Regions from separate parts of the Homo sapiens genome. Here regions 1, 2 and 4 are each linked to region 3. The links come from fine-mapping of genetic effects on gene expression. A gene starts in region 3. Each other region holds a variant in brackets. All regions are shown on one strand. Distances are from middle to middle. Region 1 overlaps PXYLP1 (2-phosphoxylose phosphatase 1). Region 2 overlaps PXYLP1 (2-phosphoxylose phosphatase 1). Region 3 holds the start of PXYLP1 (2-phosphoxylose phosphatase 1). Region 4 overlaps PXYLP1 (2-phosphoxylose phosphatase 1).

Region 1 (5,027 bases), 38 kb after region 3:
TCCTGTGGCCCTGATCCCCTATATCCCCTCCCTTTTTCTGTGCTGCTTTCAGTCTGATATCCGCTAAGAAAGAAAATAACAATGCTTGATAGAACAGTGTGTACATTAACATAGAACTGCCTCTGAGTAGGCAAGCAAGGAGCCCTGACAGGTGCCAGGGTGCTGTGACACCTTCCTCGGTGGTTCAGACCCTTGTGTCCTCAGTCCTGCTCACTCTTGTAGATGGCCATTAGCATTTGTGGTTTCGACTCTTTGCAGGGACCCCTGAGATCTGTAGTATATGGTGATAGTGATTCTGCCGAGGCACACGTCTTGATGAAAGTAGCAGGAAGTGAGCTGCTCAGCTGCTGAGGGAGCCACGTCCTGCCACACAGCCAGGGGAGGTGGTCGTCCTCTGTTCTTTGTCCTGTGTACGTTCAGTGGAGAAAAGTACAGAGTGGTATGTTTGAATGTGGGGATGCGTGAAGATCTCAGTATGCTTCATGGAAAAGATTTGGGGATGCAAGCCCTTAGAATGCACAGGGTCTAACGTACTGCGTCCTCTATTCTAAAAGCCCCAATGCGCTTCCTCCTGAGCTTTTATTTTGTTCAGCTGGAGACAAAAAGTATGAGAAATTGAAAGTGAAGGTTTACATTGTTAACCTAAGAGTTCTGTCATATCGCCATCTCTTCATTGTGACCAAAGTTTTAAATTCTGTATTTTTTGTTAATTTTGGTCCTTTTCTTAAAGATTTTACTTTCTGTTTGATTTCTGGGAGTTTTAATTTGCTTTTCCTCAGAATGCTTTATGTCCAGTTGCCACATAGAGTTAAATATCTGCAGGTGAAAAAAAAAAAAACACCATAGATGAGTGACAAAATTAAATCTGACAAATAAGCTGTTGTCACAATTTCTTAAGCTCATGTTGTAGATGCATTGGAGTGGGAAGGTGAGAGTGTCATGTAGCAGGTTCTTCTGCAAGCTGAGAATGGACACATTTATGTCTGTGGGTCATTCCTAGTTTTCTTTCAGGGTGGAGCTAGATAATGACCTCCCTCCCTCCCTCTCTGTCTCCCTCCCTCCCTCTGTCCCTCTCTGTCTCTCTCCCTCTCTCCCTCTCTCCCACCTTCCCTTTCTCTCTTCTTCCCTTTTTTCTTCTTAGTTCCTTATCTTAAAGAAGTTCTCATCAATAATTAGATGAGGGGATAGAGATATCTGTTTAAAGATGTTTACTGCAGCATCATTTGTAATAGGAAACAAAGGAGAAGGCAACCAACGTGTACAACAGTAAATACCCCATTACCTCATGATCACATAGACCTGTCTCTATTGACTTGGAAGGTTGTGCATAATATATTAAATTTTAAAATGGTACCTTTATATGCGGGTGGGTGGGGGAGAGAGAGAGAGAGAGAGAGAGAGAGAGAGAGAGAGAGTGTGTGTGTGTGTGTGTGTGTGTGTGTGTGTGTGTCTTGAGTCAGCAAGAGCAAATACTATCACGGCTAGTTAGTAAAAATAGAAAGCATTAGTAGAAGTATTCAGTGAATTCAGGAAAGTGCCTGGAGATCTCTAAGATCCACTGAAGAGATGAACAGAATAGAAAGCCACAGGATTTATGTGGCTGTACCCACTGCAGGGAGAGCGCGAGGCCAGCTGGAGTCTGGCAGGCAGAGTGTGCGCCTGCTGAGCCAAGCCACGCAGTGCAGACCCCGCTCACTCCCTGTTGTCTTGGCAACAGGGCTTTGGCCCCATGCTGATGACATTAAAAGGAGGAAGCCCACCTTGAAATGAAGTGAGTGCTGATCAGAGGCAGAGCCCTGTTATGTACCAGCAGCCCCACCTCACAAGAGAGAAGGAAGAGGCTGATCTAAAAGAGGAGACAAGGGCAGAATCTGAATCCTGTACACGAGGGTGAAGTAGGGCGGGCACCTGGGAGGGAGCTCTGGGACTGCCTCACCATCCTGCCCTCACTACCATCCTGCCCTCCTGCCAGTGCGGCTGTCACACACACTACAGATGTTACCCTGTGCCTCAGAGCCGTAGCTCAGGGGTGGGCTCAGGTGGGAAAGAATGGGGAGGTGGCTGGGATGCATGGCCCCTCTCTAGGATTTATCTGGCTGGAGCTTCAGCATCACATCTTGCCTCTCTTTGCCTTTCTCTTTTCCCTGTGTCATCCGAGGGGCTGGACTCCACTGGCCAGGGGTCTGCCCGTCCACACCACCCCTAGGTATCTACCAGAGGGTGGGGCAGCTCTTGTGGGATGTCCACATGCCTGAGAGTGCAGGCCCCACCCTGGGCCACATTCTCTCTTTCCTTGAGGTGGCCTCCCCAAAGCCCCTCGCCTGTCTGGCTATGTCTTTTGAGCCTTTACACAGAAGGCAGACAACCCACCCACCCTCAAGGACAGGTTGCTGGTTTGGTGGCCTCAGTGGGTTGCAGACCTTTGAGACACAGGAAACTTATTTGCTCCTCTTGGGGAGAGAGAACAATGTCCTTGGGCCTGAGTGACCATCCGTCACCATTCCCACCGGAGCAGGGACAGAAGCACATGTTTAGCCTCTGGCAGGGCACATATATACTCAAATACTAAAATATTCCTTATGGGGTTCTCTGGGTGGTAGGATTTATGGGTGATTTTCCTTTTCTTTTTATACTTTAGTGTTGAATGACTATTTTATGATGAACTCATGTTTTTTATGACCCCTTTTTATTTTGAAAAAAGAAAATCTGTTCATCTCTTCTTGAGTGTTGAAATTGAAAACCTGTTTCCAGGTACTTTGGGTTCTTAGCCTGAACCTGTGGACTTCTGCATTGTCCCATGGGGTTTCAGGGGTCTTGTAAACCCCCAGAAGTCCAATTCACAAGACTGTGTTCGCATCGTCTTTCAGAGATGAGGATCAATCGTTTTCATCAG[G/A]TTCTCAAAGATGAGGGTCATAACCTTCATGACCCAAAAAGGTTAAGGAGACAGGTTCTTTTCATGGTTCTTTTTGGAGGCCTGTCCTGGAAATCTCTTATTTCTAGTTTCTGTCTTGAGTGTGTGGTGATTTGGAGTCTGGTGTTGGCATCATCTAATCCAATGGCCCTGTTAGGGTAAGGCCAGTTACCAGCAGCTCCCAGAAGAGTGTGGGGTTTCCTGACTCCTCTGAGAGGCTGCAACTGGGGCTCAAGCCCAGGCCACAGGGGGAGCCCCCATGCCCAAGCAATGGGTGGACTTAGGTCCCAGAGGCAAATGTCAGAGGAAAGGGTCAAGGAGGGAGGAGATAGAGCGTGCAAATAGCCCAGGGAGCAGAGCTCCAGGCTGATAGGATGTGCCCAGCCCTGAACTCTGCTGGAGTTCTCCGGCTCCCTGAATGCTACCAGGCGTATCAGAAGCACTTAATAAATTCTTACCTAATGTGGTTCACCATGAAGCAACATTAAGAATGAGGAAAACAAGAAAGGTTGGTGTATTGCAGCTCAAAGTGGATAGATCAAAATGGCAAGAGCAGATTCAACTGTTTGATCAATCTCATTTATGTAAAACCAAGTGTCTCAAAGTCTACAAATGTGGGCTTGACTTTTCCCATTTCACCTGTATAACATGATTCCCACTCCAGCCTTTAAAAGCAGACGATGAGAGGCAGATAACAACTGTGGACTCTTCGTTGTGGTTCTGGTTTTCATTTGACAGTTACAGTGCACTTTTAAAATTCAGTACAGGTTAGAGACAGGGCGGGCATTTAAGATAATTTAGTGGGTTGAGGAGCACTAAGGGAATTGTGGGAACTGACAGAGCGCGTCATTATTCCTTGGCAGACCAGTGAAGGAGAGAGAATTCAAGAACCTTTTGGTTTATTTGCGGGGAGAAATTGGAGAAATTAGGTGGCAGGACTGGGGGTGTTTTAGCTTATGAGGAGACGCTATCTCAGATAAGCTGAATGTATTTAAGGGAGCCAGAAAAGCTGCTAAAATTGGAGTGGCCAAGAGGAGAAGGGAGATTGGCTGGTTGTGCTTTTGTGAAGGGGTGGACGCAGGGGTTTGATATCCCTTCCAGATCCCAAGTTGAAGGGAGCGCCTTTTAAGAGCCTGCAGGAAACAGGAATAATCACATCCAGGGGATGGATGTAGAAAATAGCATTCATTCATTCATTCATTTATAAGATGGAGTCTCACTCTGTCACCCAGGCTGGAATGCAGTAGTGTGATCAGGGCTCACTGCAGCCCCGAACTCCTGAGCTCAAGCGATCCTCCTGCCTCAGTCCCCTGAGTAGCTGGAACTCTAGGCATGTGCCACCATATCCTGCTCACTTTTTAAACATTGAAAATAGTATTTCTTGATTCCTTACCAGAATCCATTCACAGGTGGTATCTCAACATCATCATTACCACCCTGATCTGTAGGTATCATCACCTTCATTTGACAGATGAAGGAAATGAGGCACAGAGAGGCAGGGATACTTGCCCCAGGTCACACAGCTAGGAGGTAACAGAGCCAGGACATGAATTCACATCTTTGTAATACTATAGCTCATTTGCAGCCCCCAGCCCCAGGCTACCTCCCTGCATTCAGAACCATGGTAGCAGGGGCAACTGAGGACAGATGTCAGTGGAGTTCCAAGGAAAAAGTGACTGTAGTCCCCTAAGGAAGTGACTAGCCCAGTGTTGAAGTCCCAAAAAGGGCAAGGCAGACCCTGGAGCTAGGAAGGTAAACAGATAGTGGAGCTGGACCTTGGCCCCAAGAGGTTCTTTGCTGGTGTAGTCAGTGGGGTGACTTGTGTGGCAGCTGATCCCAGAGCAATGGAGACAGAGCTGAGCCAACACTTTAGCCTCATCATGCTCACATTTCCCGGGAAACTCTGGGTCCCTGATACCCAACTGTAATCTGCCAGGTATCTGTGTAATCAGAAGAAGGCTGACAGCCAAATCACACAAGCATGGGGATGGCAGGAGGGAGGGGTTTGGAAGCCATCTGACTCCCACTGCAGAAGTGTCTTCCACATGGGACAGCCTGTCTTTCCTGGAAAGGTCCCTTTATTAGCACAGCTGCCTAGAGTCAGGTCCTCATCCCT
Region 2 (5,028 bases), 44 kb after region 3:
AAGGAGCAATACTTTGTGTTCTTCAACCCAATCAAGTGGACACCCAGTATTAACCATCACATCTGGTAACTTCCCAATATTTCCTTTATATCCATGTCTTCACTGCATCGTTTCCATACCTGCACCCCCCAACCAGCAACCAGTGAGTGCAGGGGGCCCCGTGCCTGAGAAGGCTATTTTCTCCTTATGGTCCATGTGCTTTCTCCCCACCTTTTCTTATTTAATGTCTGACTGTCCCCCGCAACTGGATTGTAAACCCCGTGAGGGCAGAGACCTTGTCCATTTTATTCTCTGAAGAATCCCCAGCATGTGCTCCATACATGTTGGATGGCCAGATGGACAAATGCATAAATACCGAGCTTAGTGGGTGAGCAGGTCCGGGCTTACAGGCTTCAGGACCTTAGGTAACTCCCTTGACCTGCCTCTGCCTAAGGTCTACTGTCTGGCTGATGGTTACTCTTCCTAGGTTGAGATCCAAAGCTGGGAAAAGCAGAGAGAGGATCAGTTTGGCTTGCATCCTAGCTATAGCTATGGGAATGTTTACTAGTAATACATACAGAGTCATCCACTGTGCATTCGGGAGATGGGGTGGGGAAGGGTGGTGGGGAGGGAGCCTGCGTGGGATAGCATCTGGTTGTTTTACTCATGATTCTAAGAAATTTGTTGGTTGCTTTTGAGAGGGAGGGTCCCAAGGAGATGCTTTAGAGGTCATGTTCTCTGCCATTTCTTTGAAATTGAGACCTTGTCGGCATCTTTACACATGAGGGTTATAGATGTGTGGACAGGATGAAAGTGATCGTAGATGAGATGAGCAGAGAACACCGCCATAAAAGAGAGGCTTATTTCCAAAGGTAGCTTACGGAAATTTGCCCTCCTACTTGGTAATCACACCACAGAGAAATTGCATGCCCGTTGGTACAGAGTTAATCATCAGTAAAAGATATCTCGTATCCTGTTATTCGTGTTGGTCCTGGTGGCACAGTGGCCCCAGGACACTCATTTAGATTCATGGGTTTTCCCACCTACATAATGAAACTCGTTATCCTTCCATCTATTTATCTGCCCACTATTCTTTCTGATGCCCCCACAGCCTCTTTCTCTTGCCCTGTGACATCTGAGCTGCTGTCATCTGCCTGAGGTCAGCAGAGTTTCTAATTGTTCCACAGGACAGCTAGAGGCACGGGGGGCCTGGGCAAAGCCTGCTGGGAGGAGCAGTGTCCTGGAGCAGTGTCTGCCCCCAGCCCCTGGGTCTGTCCCTCAGCTCCCTTTATCTAGGTGATCGGGGCAAGCCTCAAGAGCTGATGTGGTGAGTAGCACAGCACCAGGGCAGAGGCGGCCTGCAGCCCGGGGTCTGCTCCTCCAGGCCCCTTCCCAGCCTTCCTCCTGGAGCCCGGCCTGCACATCGACCCTGGTGAGGCCAACCTGACCAGGCCTTACGGGACCCAAGGCGTATCCTGAGCCAGCTTGCTGACCCCCATCTGCCATGTTTGGCTGTGTTTCACGGCCTCCCCTCTGCTCCTCTCCTCTTCCCCTCCACACAGCCAGCTTCATCAGTTTTTCAGGCCCAGCTAGGTGTCTCCTCTGGGAAGCCTGTTTGGATGCCCCTCACCCCAGACTGGTTCGGCAACCCTCAGTGCTCCACATGAGGAGTCAATGAGATATTTCATCAAAAGCATGGAGCACAGCGTCTGCCCCAGTTCAGCAGGTATTTTTGGAAGACCTATCCTCTGTCAGTCAGCGGGGGATATAAATGTGAAAGACGCACACTCCCAGCCCTCTGGATGTTTGGGATGGCAGGGTGACAAACTGGGACACCCCTGCTTGCATATACTATGCTGTGAGCCATGACGGCAGCAGGAACTGGGTAGGCTCATAGAAGAGGATGTGGGAACTGGGGATTCAGGGCGGGCTTCCTGGAGGAGGTGACCCTAGGATCAGTTACAGTGTTGGTCAGATTTCGGGAGCAGAGGGTGAGAGTAGAGTTGCCAGCAAACGGTGGAGCATAGGCGAGAAACATCCTGTGGGGTGGGATGGCTCAGAGCAGCTCAGAACAGTGAGAACCAAGTTGGGATTGGGGTCAAGATGGAGCTGGGGAGACTTCTCCTCACAGCTTCTATGTGTCAGGACCTGTTTTGAATGCCTGGTATTGGGAAGGCCCCTTGTGAACTGATGCTATGTCCTGGTGACTCAGGGAGGTACAAATAGTACAGGGTGATCTCACACTCTGAACTAGTAGACACAGTTGACAGGCCCAGATACCAGAGGAAGCAGCAGATAAAATCTTTCTGGAGAGAAGGTCTCATTCTGATCTTTATCTGTGGTTTTCAAACCACTGCTTCCTTGGGTCATGGGTGGGTCATTTGCACCCAACCACCATGGTTCCCAAATGGCAGCCACAACAGGCCTCACCCCGGGTGCTTATAGATGAACTAGCAAACTGTGGGCACTCTAGGACACCCACTGTCCTCACCTGTGCCCCTCCATTTCTGTGTCACTCATATTATCCTGTCTCCTTAGCTGCTTCTGTCCCTGGCCCAGACTCCAAGGGAGTGTGCCCACAGGCATGGCCAAGGGGCCAGGACTTGGTAGATTTCACAAAAGAGCAGAATCAAGGACTGAGCCAGCCAGAAGGGCCAGGTCACTAAGAGACTGCCTTAGCACTTTTCTATATTTCCGTGCTCTTGTGCTAATCCCCCTGTAGTGAATTCCCTCTGAACACCTGGGCTGTGTTAGCCATCCTAGCACCTTCCAACTACTGGAAAGAAAGTGGCCCTAGGAGCAACCAAAGGGCTAATGTTGGGTGGGTGAATCACCAGTTCTGTATCTCTGTGATTGTTGTTTTGGTAACACAAGTAATGAAGGGAAATACGTTCACTG[T/TA]AAAAAAAAAAAAAATGCTTACCTAGACAGCATAGAAATACAGAAATATATATTTCTATACATATAGAATACATTAATATGTGCTTACTATAAATACATATGCAGTCATGTACCACATAATGACTTCCATCAACGACAGAACACATATATGACAGTGGTGCCATATTATAATACCATATTTTTACTGTATTCTTTCTAAGTCGAGATATGTTTAGATACACAAGTACTTACCATTGTGTTACAACTGCTTACAACATTCAGTGCGGTAACATGCAGTTCAGGTTTGTAGCCTAGGAGCGGCAGGCTGACCAAATAGCCTAGGTGTGTAGAAAGCTCTACCATCTAGGTTTGTGTAAGTGCACTCTATGATGTTTACACTATGACAAAATTGCCTAAGGGCCATCTCTCAGTGCCTCCCCATTGTTACGCAACTCATGACTGTACGTATATGTGTGTGCGAATATACAAACAAGTAAAAATACTTTTTCACACCCCATTCCATCCTTTCCCAGAGGAAAACCACTGCTGTGTTATGATGGATAACCTTCTAGACATTTTTTCTATGCATTTACGTAATAAACAAATCCCTGTATATTTATGCATTTATGGTTTGTTTTTTTTCTTTACACAAAGAGGATTATATCAGTATACAGTGACTTGGTGTATTCACTTCACTTAATTTATCTTTGATTCTTTTCCCTTCTTTTTAACTGGGATAGAACATTCCACAGTAGGGACATAACGTTCTGTTCTGCTAGAGATGGATATTTAGGTTATTTCCCTTTTTTGTTATTACAAACAGCACTGCAGGGAATCTCTTTGGCCACACATTTTTGTGCGTGGGCATCGCTATCTTTATAGATACAGAATGGATTCCAAGACGTAGAATAACGAGATCGGGGGTAGTGCACATATACCATTTTGATGGCTACTGCCAAACACTCCCGAGAGGTGCCGGTTTCCACCCTCCCCATGATGTTTGGAAGCGTCAGGTTTCTCACACCCTTCCCAATATTGAGTGTTATCATTAAAACATGATTTTCCAGTTTGATGAGGAAAAATTATTAATATAGTCCACTGTTTGATTTATATTTCTTTAATTATGAATAAACAATTATGAAAAACAGTATCACACTGTTGTTTTATCTGTATCTAATTATGAACAAACTTAAGCATCTCTTCATGTGTTTATTGGCCATTGGTATTTATTTTTCTGCGATTAGCCTGTTCATATCCTTTAATGATTTTTCAGGTGTAGGGTCTCTTATGGACTTTGGATATTAATCATTTGTCTGTTAGGTTAGTTGCAAATATTTTTCTCTCAGTGTGTTGCCTTTTATCTTTGTTTATGGCATCTGTTTGCCAAAGGGAAGTTTTAAATATTTATGTAGAAGAATTTGTAGAAGTAATTAGGGAATTTACATTGATTTAGGCTGGTGGTTGGTCCCTGTTTTAGCTATTGTTCGTGCGCATGTGTAGATATTATGGTGATTAATAAATCTTTTAGAAGTTAAAAAGATCTGTGAGCACACTTATTTTCATGTGTTTCCCTCAAAGGGCGGATGCTGAAAGTATGACTATACTGTGTTGGGAGTTCTAGAGGATCTATGATGCTACAAAGACATTCCCTAGGCACGGAGAGATTAGGGACCACTGAGACAGAAGCTGTTCATGAGGGATAGATGGCTGGGCAGCCCCACATTTCCATTCTTACAGATTAGCATCCGAAAGAAAAAGAGCACCTCTTCTAGAGTCTGTATATCACCTGTCTCGAGGAAAGGGAGTCCAGTTGCCCCATTACTACCCTTATTGACTCTGGTCACATGTCCACCCCTGCCAGGGGGTGGGGACACTGTGATTGACAGTCCAGCCTGACCACACGTGGTGGTGAAGGGTCAGCTCACTAATGGAATGAGGGTAGTAGATGGACAAGCACACAGATTGCAAGACCCACACATGCCACGCCGAAGACAGTGGCAGGGAAGCTGGCCTGAAGTCAAGGAGTAAGCGTGAGACAGGCTTTCACCCACCACACATGCCTTGGTCCTTGGCTTTCTTCTGTAAAGTGCTCTCATGGGTTAGATGAGCGACTCTGAAGGCCCACAAAGCATAAAGCAGATGATGATAAATGGGATATGTCAGACACCCACA
Region 3 (5,028 bases):
CTGCTCCCAGTTGCTTATAGTCTAGGAAGGGATCACTTGTGTAACATGGGAGCAAATGCTGCCTAGCGGAATATTCGTGACTTGGGTGAGTCTGGGACTATTTTTATAAGATGGGTGGGCTCTGCTTTTAATGAATGTTGAGGGTTTCCTTGGAGGTCAAGATGTGAATTTGGAAAGGACAAAGGAGCAGGCTGGGAATAAGAGGGGAGACAAAAGTTATTGAGCATACTGCATGCACTTTTCATTTCTACAGTTTACAGTTACCAAAGAGGATGGCTTGCTCATTTATCATATGAATAACGGTGATGATAGTTGCTATTTTACAGGAACTAATGTGTGAGGTCCTATGCTAGAGGCTTATACTAGTCAAGACTCTCTTGGTTGCAAGTGACAGAGAAAGCCAATTCTAATTTGCTTGGGGGAAAATGGGGTATTTACTGGAACACGTACTTGAAAAATCCAGTGGTATGTGGGATTCAGGCACAGCAGAAACCTGCCTATGACATCCATTCTGTTGTGAAGGTAAACAAAAAAGAAAGAAAGAAAGAAACCTGCCTATCTCACCACTCTGCTTTCCTCTGTCAGCTGCAGTCTCTGGCACAGTCTCCCCAGGTGCTGGCCAGATGGTCCCCAGCTGTGTCAGGCTGCCATCCTGCCTCTTCAGCAACCACGGAGGAAAGAGATTTAGTGGGAGTAATGGTCTTGAGATGCTTCCTCATATCTATTTTCCCTGTAGGAAGCTTTTCTTTTTTCTTCCCTATAGCCCCTTTCTCCATTAAGGCTCGGTGGGTACCACTCAGAACCCAGAGTCCACAGGGGGAGGAGATGCCTCCTCTAGAATGGAAGGTAGCATAGACATCCTCAGGGAATCGGGAAGGTGAGGTAAAGAAACAGGATGTGAGTCTAGGGAGTGTATGATGCCTGATTCCATGAGGGCCTGAGGCTATCCCTATACCAAGTGTGGACCTAGGGAAGGGGGTGGTACAAAGACACAGATCTCAGATAGGTTAAGGAGGAAGCTGAAAGCAGAAAGGGCCTGTGTCCTATCTCCAGGCTGAGACTCTGCCCCCACAGTATGCCCTGCGCTGTCAAGCAAAGCGCTGGTGTGGCAAATTTTGCAGAGAAATGGCTAGAGATGGTGCCCTGAGTTACCTTTAGTCCCCTTGTGACAGAGAAGGGATCCAAGAGTGCCTACATGCTCCCTGCTGAGGGTGATAGTGTGTCCACGAGTGAACCCACCTGCCATGGAGTCACAGAGGCTGAGAGCACAGCATGGACATGTGGCCCAATCCTGCAAACAAAGCCAGGTCCAAGGCTAGTTGCAATGGCTGGCAGAGAAGCTGATTTTCTGCTAGAACTAGAGCTGTGAGGCTGTGAGCCTGGATCTGCCAGGGTCTCATGTGCGCATGAAAGCGTAGTTCATGTGGAAGACAGCAAAACTGAGACGGGGAGTCCCTGAGACCCTGGGACTAAAGCCAGGCCTGAAGCAGACAGGCTCTTCATGTACACAGCGGATCAACCCTTTGTGATTTAAGTTAGTGTGAATTGGGTTGTCTTTTACAGCAGAAAGCACCTTGACTAACCCATGTAGAGAAGAGGGTGACAGTGTGAGCTAAGCAGTAGAGCCTGCAATCCGTGAGAGGACAATCAGAAGGGGCAGAGGAGACATTGTTGGGCGGGCTGCGGTGGGCTTCTGTGGGGGCCAGGTGGGAGAGTTGGGGGTGATGCCAAAGGGGACAGTGAAAAGATTTTGTGCTCATGGATTGGGAGAGGCTGTCAGTATTCAGGGCAGAAAAAAGGCCCGGGATAGCGCTGCATCGGGGGAATACCAGAGGCGGACAGGCAGCAAAGTCCGGTACTGACGAGCCATTAAGGCACCTGATGAAGAAGGCATGACAGGTGGCTGAGAGAATGGCGAGACCACGGGGATAAATGGAGTTGGGAGCTTGGAAGAGGTAAAATTTAGTGCCAGACGTGGTAACTTGAGGAGGAAAGTTCTAAGAAAAAAACCGGAGGGTAGGGGGAAATATGGCTAACATATCTGAGCCAAGTGTGTGGATTTGAGAGCCATCAATCAAGGAGAGAAAGCAGAAGTCAAGGGATGAGATCCTCCCAAAGGTGCACCTCAAAGGTATATAGTAGCAAATTCGAATCCGTATCTATTTTGCCTGAGGCTAGTTGTGCTAGGACACACAGGGTTGCTGTAGACCTCGAGCTGACAGCAAAGACCTCTCTGATAATCGCTGTTGGTCGTTTCATCTCCCACAGAGAAATCTGGTGGAAATCTCCACCAGCTGGAACCTAACATTTGCAATAAATGACCCACAAATACTGATCAAACCAAATACAACCGTTCGCCTATCAGATGTCTAACGGGGCGTTACAGGCAGCCCTCAAGTGCTCTGAGGATCTTCAGCAGCGGCTCCAAGGAAGCCGCGGGCCGGGAGCAGGTGGGAAGGGCGACTGCGCGGGGCCACGACCTCCCCGGGTCTCTGCAGACCGTTGGAGACGGAGCAGCAGCGAGGACTAGAGCAACACAAGGCCGGATGTGTTCTGAGCCGGAAGAGGAGTGTGGGATAGGCCGAAAGGGGTGGGGGGTGGGGGGTGACAGTTTGGGTCTACGTGGCAGCAGGCGCACCCCAGACGCGCGCGCCCACCCGGCGATAGCATCAGCGGCGCCAGGGCAGGCACATGGCCCCAAAGCACCCACACTAGGGCCCGGGCCGGCCAGGGCTGTGTTCCTGGGCCTTGGCGCGCCTCCGCGCAGTCCCTGATCGCAGGTCAGGAGTTGTGAGGCACGCGAGAGCCCTGCGCGTCTGTGGTCGTGGTCCCTGCGCGCTCGGCTTGTCCGTGCCCGTGGCTTTGCACGCCGAGGGCTCTGCAGACTGACCAGTCTCTCCGGGCTGTGCTGGGCCTCCCAGAGGCAGTGTCCTCTCAGCAACCCCGCGCGGTCGCCCCCGCCCAGCCGCACCGCAACACCGCCTCCGGGGCGGAGCTCCAGGGCTCCTGGTGCAGGGCCGGCCGAACTGAGACGGGGCGCGGCGGGGTCGGCAGGGGGCGCTGCCGGGCCCCGCGAGCTCCCCGGTGGCGGGTGCGCGCCGCCCTCGCCTCCCCTCGCGCCGGGAGGAGCTGGCGGCGAGCGCCGAGCCGGGCGCGCAGCGACGGAGCTGGGGCCGGCCTGGGACCATGGGCGGTGAGTGCGGCGCGGGCCTGGGCCGGGGCGGTTGCCGTTGGGGCCGAGCAGCGCAGAGGTTCTAGGCGGGTGGGCGTCCAGGGTCCGAGGTTGGGAGACTGAGGGGGTCCCCCTAACTCGCCAGTGGGAGAGGGGCGGGAAGGCTGGGGGCGCTTCGAAGCGTCGGGTCCGAATCCCGCGACTAAGCCTCCTCCTTTATCCCCGCGCTCGCCCCTGAGCCTAGGACTTGCGCCCTCTTTCCTGCCACTCCCCCCGTGCGCCCGGTGTCCCAGCCCCGGCGCCCGCCCCATAGCCCCCTTCTCCCAGAGCTGGCGCCGTCTCACGCCCGCTGCGAACCCCCGGCTCTGTCTCCAAGCCCTCGCCCCCCGCAGCCCCGCACTCTCCCGCGGAGCCCGCCTCCACCTCGCCCCCGCCCTTCCAGCCCTCTCCCGCACGGCCCCCGCACTCCCGCCGCTGGATTCCAGCCGAGATTCAAGCTCCCGGGATCCCCCTTCCCGGGCGGTCCTGAGCCGGCTAGTCTCCAGGTAAGGAGGCGGCCGCAACTTCGCGGCCTTTCCCGGAGACGGGGCTGGCTCCTCTTGGCAGCCACCTGCAGCCTGACGCCTCCGGGAGTCCCGGGCCTGGCCACGGGGCCGCCCGAGCGCAGGTTAACATTCCTGGATGCGCAGGTTAGGACCGTGTGGTGTAGACCCACGACGTTGCTTTTGCTGGTGAACTTGCCTATGTCCTGATCTTTTAAATAAGCTGGGTTTGTCACACACACACACACAGAGAGAGAGAGAATGGATTTGCTTAGGGTAGGTTGCCTGCTTTGCAGCCGCAGCTGCCTTTTAAATTGTACCTGTGGATGGTAAAGGATTCACGGTGCAGGACGTGGAGCCATATTTTCCCGCTTCGGCTGTGAGTTCAGCGATTGCGAGGGGGCTCTGTAGTGAGTGAGGTTATCACCGCCTGGCTAGCCAGTGTCTTTGTGGAAAGGCAAGGATCCTTTGTAAGCATTCAACAAGTAAAATCAGGAGAGATGGGGAATCAGATCGAGCTGTGAATGGGGAAGTGTAGGGGGGTGGATGGGGGATCGGAGAGTGCTCCACAAATGGAGCCGTTTGTTGATATTTGCAGAAGGCCCGTGGGTGTGAAGCTGGCAGTGCGGAGCCCACCCTTTCAAACGGGATGCGACTGCGGTCGGGCTTGGCAGTAACTTACCCTCCTCAGAGGTGTTGGTGCCCAATCGGGACATCTGTGGGAAGGGGATTTATAGCAGATGGATCAAAAGGCCTCGGGCGCGGTGGCTCACGCCTGTAATCCCAGCACTTTGGGAGGCCGAGGCGGGCGGATCACCAGAGGTCGGGAGTTCGAGACTAGCCTGACCAACATAAAAACCCCGTCTCTACTAAAAATACAAAATTAGCCAGGCGTGGTGGTGCATACCTGTAATCCCAGCTACTCAGGAGGCTGAGACAGGAGAATCGCTTGCACCTGGGAGGCAGAGGTTGCAGTGAGCTGAGATTGCGCCATTGCACTCCAGCTTGGGCAATAAGAGCAAAACCCTGTCAAAAAAAAAAAAAAAAAAAAAACCCTCGTGGTCCCTGGAGAGAGGTGAAGATGCACGGGACAGCCTGAAAGCCAGTGTATGAATCTGCCCCATCCCTTCTCCTGGCTTTCATTAAGTCTTGGATTAAATTAATTGCTTATCTCAGAGAAAGGATGTGTAGGGGGAACTTCTCTGTTAGGGATTGGCTCCTGGCCAGCCCATCCTCACTGATGCCTTGGGAGGCTGCGTTTGGGCACCAGGAACAGCGTGGGCCACCTGGCCTTTGGAGCACAGCACTCCGAGT
Region 4 (5,028 bases), 54 kb after region 3:
AATGAATAAATGATGGCAGCTGAAACTCAGAAGTGGCAGCAGAGATGGAGAGAGTGAGTGGGTCTTAGAGAAGGTTACAAGGTGGGATCAATAGGACTTGGTGGCAGGTTGGACAGGGGTATGAAAGGCAGGCCCGATGGGGCCCAGGTTTCTGACTGGGTGTCTGGCTGGTGGTGGTACCCCTCCCTGGAATTAGAGAACACAGAAGGGAGGTATGGGGGGAAGTTAGTACAGGCATTGGTGCTACATTTGAGCTATCATGAAACATTCAAGAGACAGTTTCTAGTCAGTAATAGGCTGTATAATTTTTTTTTTTTGAGACAGAGTCTCGCTCTGTCACTAGGCTGGAGTGCAATGGCATGAACTTGGCTCGTTGCAACCTCTGCCTCCCAGGTTCAAGCGATTCTCCTGCCTCAGCCTCCCGAGTAGCTGGGACTACAGGCACGCGCCACCATGCCCAGCTAATTTTTGTATTTTTTTTTTTTTTTATTTTTTAGTAGAGATGGGGTTTCACCATGTTGGCCAGGATGGTCTTGATCTCTTGACCTCATGATCAGCCCACCTCAGCCTCCCAAAGTGCTGGGATTACAGGTGTGAGCCACCCTGCCTGGCCTAGTCTGTATAATTTTGCAGCTCAGGGGCACTGGCTTGCTGGGAAAAAGAGGTTTAGTTGAGAATCTTCAGCATGTTGATGGCATTTGAAGCTGTGGGCTTATATTACAGACAGAACCTGAGGAGTGAGGGATGGGCCAAAACCAGAGTCCTGGGAAGCACCAGCATGTGGTACTCAGAGAGAAAAAGGATTTCAAAAGGGGCCAGGGATGTTGCAAATGGGGAAAAGTCAGGAGAGCAATGTTATGAGAGCTAAGGAAAGCAGGGCAATGCATTACATCAAGTAAGACCAAAAGGTCCAGAAAGCTAAAAACAAAGAAAAGTACACTGGGCTTATCTTTTCATAATCTCATGTTATTAATATGTAAGATGATAAATTCTTTAATTGGCATGAACTTTAAAAATCTAATGTGATTCCAGTTTCCAGCTATGTATGCTCTTTTGGATTGTGTTTTCTGGTAACAGTGTCACTGGTCGTCTGCCTCTTCTGCTTGCCTTAACATTCTGTGCAGAACTCAGTCATTGCTGAGATTTTAAATAAACAATAAATGTTCTCATGGGTGTGTGGATTAGCCTTGGGGTTCAGCCTCAAACTTTGTGGCATAAATAGATGTGAATAATGCATATAAAAGTGAAGATAAGGACTCCAAAGTGAATGACTTGAAGGCTTAAGATAGTAACACTTTTGATTATTTCAGTTTTCATTATGAAAGCAGATTTTCAATGAGCCCACAATAATATGAGTTTTTCCTAAAGAAAAATTTATTTTCATGGATATAATTATGTCTGCATTAGTCAGGGTACACCTATTTTGTAAGTTTATTTTGTAGCACAGGGACTCATGAATGCATTACCTTAAATAACAAGGAAGTTTAGCTCTTCCTCATGTGAAGGTCTGAAATGTGTGTTCCAGATTGTGCTAGTCAGCTCCACCTGGTCATTCAGGGCCCCAGGTTTCTTCCAGGTTGTTGTTTCTACCATCCCCTGGGGATGGCTACATGGTTGAACCCTGGTTGCTGCCATGCCTAAATAATGGCTGGAAGGAAGGAAGATAATGTGAACCGGGCATACACATGATCAGAAAGCCTGAACCCAGAAGTGGCATACATCTTTCCGTTCTGTTGGCGAATGCGGCTTTACCTCATTTCAGGACCTCAGAAATAGGATCTAACCAAGTTCTTAAGAAGAGAATAGATTTTAGTGTACGACTAGTACACTAGTCTCATCCACACTAGCCTTTAGTTTTAATACAGTCATCCATAGAGGATTGGTTCCAGGATCCTCCTTGGATACCAGAATCTGAGATGCTCAAGTCCCTTATGTAAAATGGTGTTGTATTTACACAGAACCTGCGCACATTCTCCCATGTACTTTACATCATCTCTAGATTACTTATAACGCCAAACACAATGTAAATGCTGTGTAAATAGTTGTTATTTGTATTATTTTTATTGTTGTATTGTTATTTCTTATTGGGTTTTTTCCAAGTATTTTTGGATCCACAGTTGAATCTTCCAATGCAGAATCTGAAGAGATGGAGGGCCGACTATATTTTCATCAAAATCTGAATATTTTAACAAACCGTATGGGAACTTATCGTATTCATTTCTACAGATTATGGAAGGCTTGCTATTTTCATGAAACATCCAAGGATGGGACACTTCACAGTTGAATTCACTCACATATATTTTTAGAGCATCTGCTATGTGCTAAGCACCCTCTGGGCTCCAGGGATGGAGCAGTGGACCAGGCAGACAAGGCCTGGGTAGTCAGATCCAGGTCCAGGACTCGAGTTACCTGGTCTGCTTTCCACTAAAAAGATACAGCCATTTGTTGTCAAATGTTTTTTTTCTTTTTCTTTTTCTTTTTTTTTTTTTTTTTTTTGAGACAGGGTATCTCTTTGTCACCCAGGCTAGAGTACAGTAGTACAATCACAGCTCACTGCAGCCTCGACCTCCTGGA[C/T]TCATGTGATCCTCCTGCTTTAGCCTCCTGAGTGGCTGAGACTATAGGCCTGCGCCACCATGCCTGGCTAGTTTTTGTATTTTTTGTAGAGACATGGTCTCACTATGTTGGCCAGTCTCAAACTCCTGGCCCCAAGCAGTCCTCCCACCTCGGCCTCCCAAAATGCTGGGATTACAGGCATGAGCCACCATGCCCGGCCTGTTAGCTATTCTTTAAATGAAGTTTTTCTTCCACAAATCTTCATCTTTGCATGCCAAAAACAAACAACACAACAACAACAACAAAAAAAAACAAAAATAAAAAACATTGGAATGAATGCAGTTAGATATCATTAAGCAGTCAGATGCCCTGAAAACCTGGGTCACCTCAGCAAACACTTCCAGTCATGAAATTCCATTTCTAAAATTGGCAGCAAAGCTTTCTCAGATCCTCAAAAAAAGCTCCAACCTGAAATAATGGCCTGGTGCAGAACATTTGACTCCTGTTGATGGATAGCCTTTGTTTATGTGGATTACTCTTGGCAGCCTCATTGTCAGTCTGGACATTTTATTTCCCAGTTTGCAAACATTTATGTGCTTTAGCCTCAGGCAAAATAACGTACCCTGTTTTTGTGGAAAGGCATAACTCCCTTTAGCTATCCAGGGTGATTTATTAGACTATATTACATGTCTGGATTAGTATTCTCTAATTTAAAAACGTATTTTTAAAAGATGGATTTTTTTTTTAGCTTTATGTTGTTGATAGATAATAAACCCATTTTGGCAGCCATTTTTAAAGCACTTTCAAAGTTAACTGGGCCTTCAGACAGCAGGGGTTTGCCATTAGAACAGTTTATCTTTGCTTCTTTTCATGCTGATTCTTATAGAGTTTAGGCATGAACTACTCTATCTGTCCACTTCTCTTCAGCTGGAAAATGTATATACATTCATAGGCTACTTCATTATTCAAAGAAAAGATGTTTATATTCATAGGTCATTTCATTATTCAGGGTAATTGTATATTAGTGACTAGAAAGATTTACCACATATACTTTGTGGCAGAAATATAGATACTCTCAGATCTCATATATAAACTTTTTTTGACATTTATTATTACCCTATATTAAATGAGAGGTTGTATGTCCAAAACGTGGAGTGGATTGTAAAGAGGTATAGAGATCCTGGTTATCTTATTCAGTTAACAATTTTCCTAAAGGGGGATTTTTCAGAGGTCAGAAAAATTAAGGATTATGGGTGACCTTGATAAAGGATAGGGTAGATTTTCTAGGAGGAAGGGATAGCTCGTGGGAAGTGGTGGAAGTGTTGAAGAATGAGGTGCGTTGTGTGTTGGAGGAAAGAAGGCCTTTGGCTTGGCGTGGCCAGAGCACAGTATTAGGGTAGAGAGGGCCAGTGAGTACCAGGGCGAGGCCAGAATAGAGGGACAGGCTGTGTGTGGCCCCTTCCAGAAGGTGGTGATAGGGAAGGGCAGTGACTGGTCAGAGTTACCTTTTAAATCAATCCTTCTGGTGGTGGAGAAGGCAAGATTATTAGAGGGGCATGCTTAATCAGCAAGAAGACCAATAAAGAGCCCATTGCCAGCCAGACAAAAGCTGCCTGAGGCCAGAACCTAGGTAGTAGCTGTGAGGATGAAGGAGAAGGGGATGGAGAAGCACCAGGAGAAAGAATCTGCAAGACATGGGGAGCAGACAGCATGTGCAGGGGCAGGGAATGGAGAGAGTGGGACGATGCCCAGCCTAGGCGTGACTGCTGGGTGGGTGTTGGCGGCCTCCCGGAGAGCGAGCCCGGAAGGCAGCACAGGTTGGGGAGCCGGAAGATAGACGGCGAAGCTGAATCCCACAGTACTGAGTTCAGCAGAGGTTAGGAACTCTGGCCAACCTCACAGAGGGGATTTCATGTGTCAGTGTCAGTGGTCGAGAAATAATGAAATTGGAACTGAAAAGTGATTGAGCCGGTACCTGTTACTGTGGGTGCAAAAGGCTGCGATACACGTGGGATTTGGCTCGCTGAAGCTGGAAACTGTTTGGATTCTTGTGGAGCACTCTGACCTCTAACTCTCTCTATCATCTCTCTAGGAAACCGTATCACCCAAAACTGGAAGCTTTCATTAGTCACATGTCAAAAGGATCCGGAGCCTCTTTCGAAAGCCCCTTGAACTCCTTGCCTCTTTACCCAAATCACCCATTGTGTGAGATGGGAGAGCTCACACAGACAGGTATGTGTGACCCCCATGCGCTCAGGGGTTCCCCCACCCGCTCTTCTGCTTGCATACCTTCCGAGCAGTTCTCCTGGGCGGGGTGCTGTGCAGCTCAGAGGGGGTAAGCAAGGACTGGCTCTGCAAGGAGCTCGGTCACCAGGGCCTCTAAATAAACATCAGAGTTCTCAAAACTAAATAGAACCTTTCTCCTTCTTACAAAAACAATACGTGTTCATGAAAATAATTTAGGAAAGACAAGTA

Evidence for each region. PIP is the estimated chance that this variant, and not a neighbour inherited with it, causes the effect.
Region 1: its variant is the best candidate, but not a certain one, in a credible set for the expression of PXYLP1 in tibial artery (GTEx, PIP 0.89).
Region 2: its variant is the best candidate, but not a certain one, in a credible set for the expression of PXYLP1 in monocytes (CEDAR, PIP 0.90).
Region 4: its variant is the best candidate, but not a certain one, in a credible set for the expression of PXYLP1 in thyroid (GTEx, PIP 0.73).

What each region holds. Positions count from the first base shown.
Region 1 is chr3:141,266,793-141,271,819 of GRCh38, forward strand. All of the region lies in intron 2 of PXYLP1 (2-phosphoxylose phosphatase 1), which reads left to right. Among named protein-coding and RNA genes, the nearest start is that of PXYLP1, 37 kb to the left of the region's middle. The variant G/A (reference allele first, on the strand shown) is at 2,894.
Region 2 is chr3:141,272,919-141,277,946 of GRCh38, forward strand. All of the region lies in intron 2 of PXYLP1 (2-phosphoxylose phosphatase 1), which reads left to right. Among named protein-coding and RNA genes, the nearest start is that of PXYLP1, 44 kb to the left of the region's middle. RefSeq lists an enhancer at 908-1,077. The variant T/TA (reference allele first, on the strand shown) is at 2,878.
Region 3 is chr3:141,228,719-141,233,746 of GRCh38, forward strand. It overlaps PXYLP1 (2-phosphoxylose phosphatase 1), which reads left to right and starts at 3,107. Exons shown (of 6, transcript NM_001037172.3): 1 at 3,107-3,193. RefSeq lists a silencer at 2,846-3,225.
Region 4 is chr3:141,282,669-141,287,696 of GRCh38, forward strand. It overlaps PXYLP1 (2-phosphoxylose phosphatase 1), which reads left to right. Exons shown (of 6, transcript NM_001037172.3): 5 at 4,646-4,785. Among named protein-coding and RNA genes, the nearest start is that of PXYLP1, 53 kb to the left of the region's middle. The variant C/T (reference allele first, on the strand shown) is at 2,575.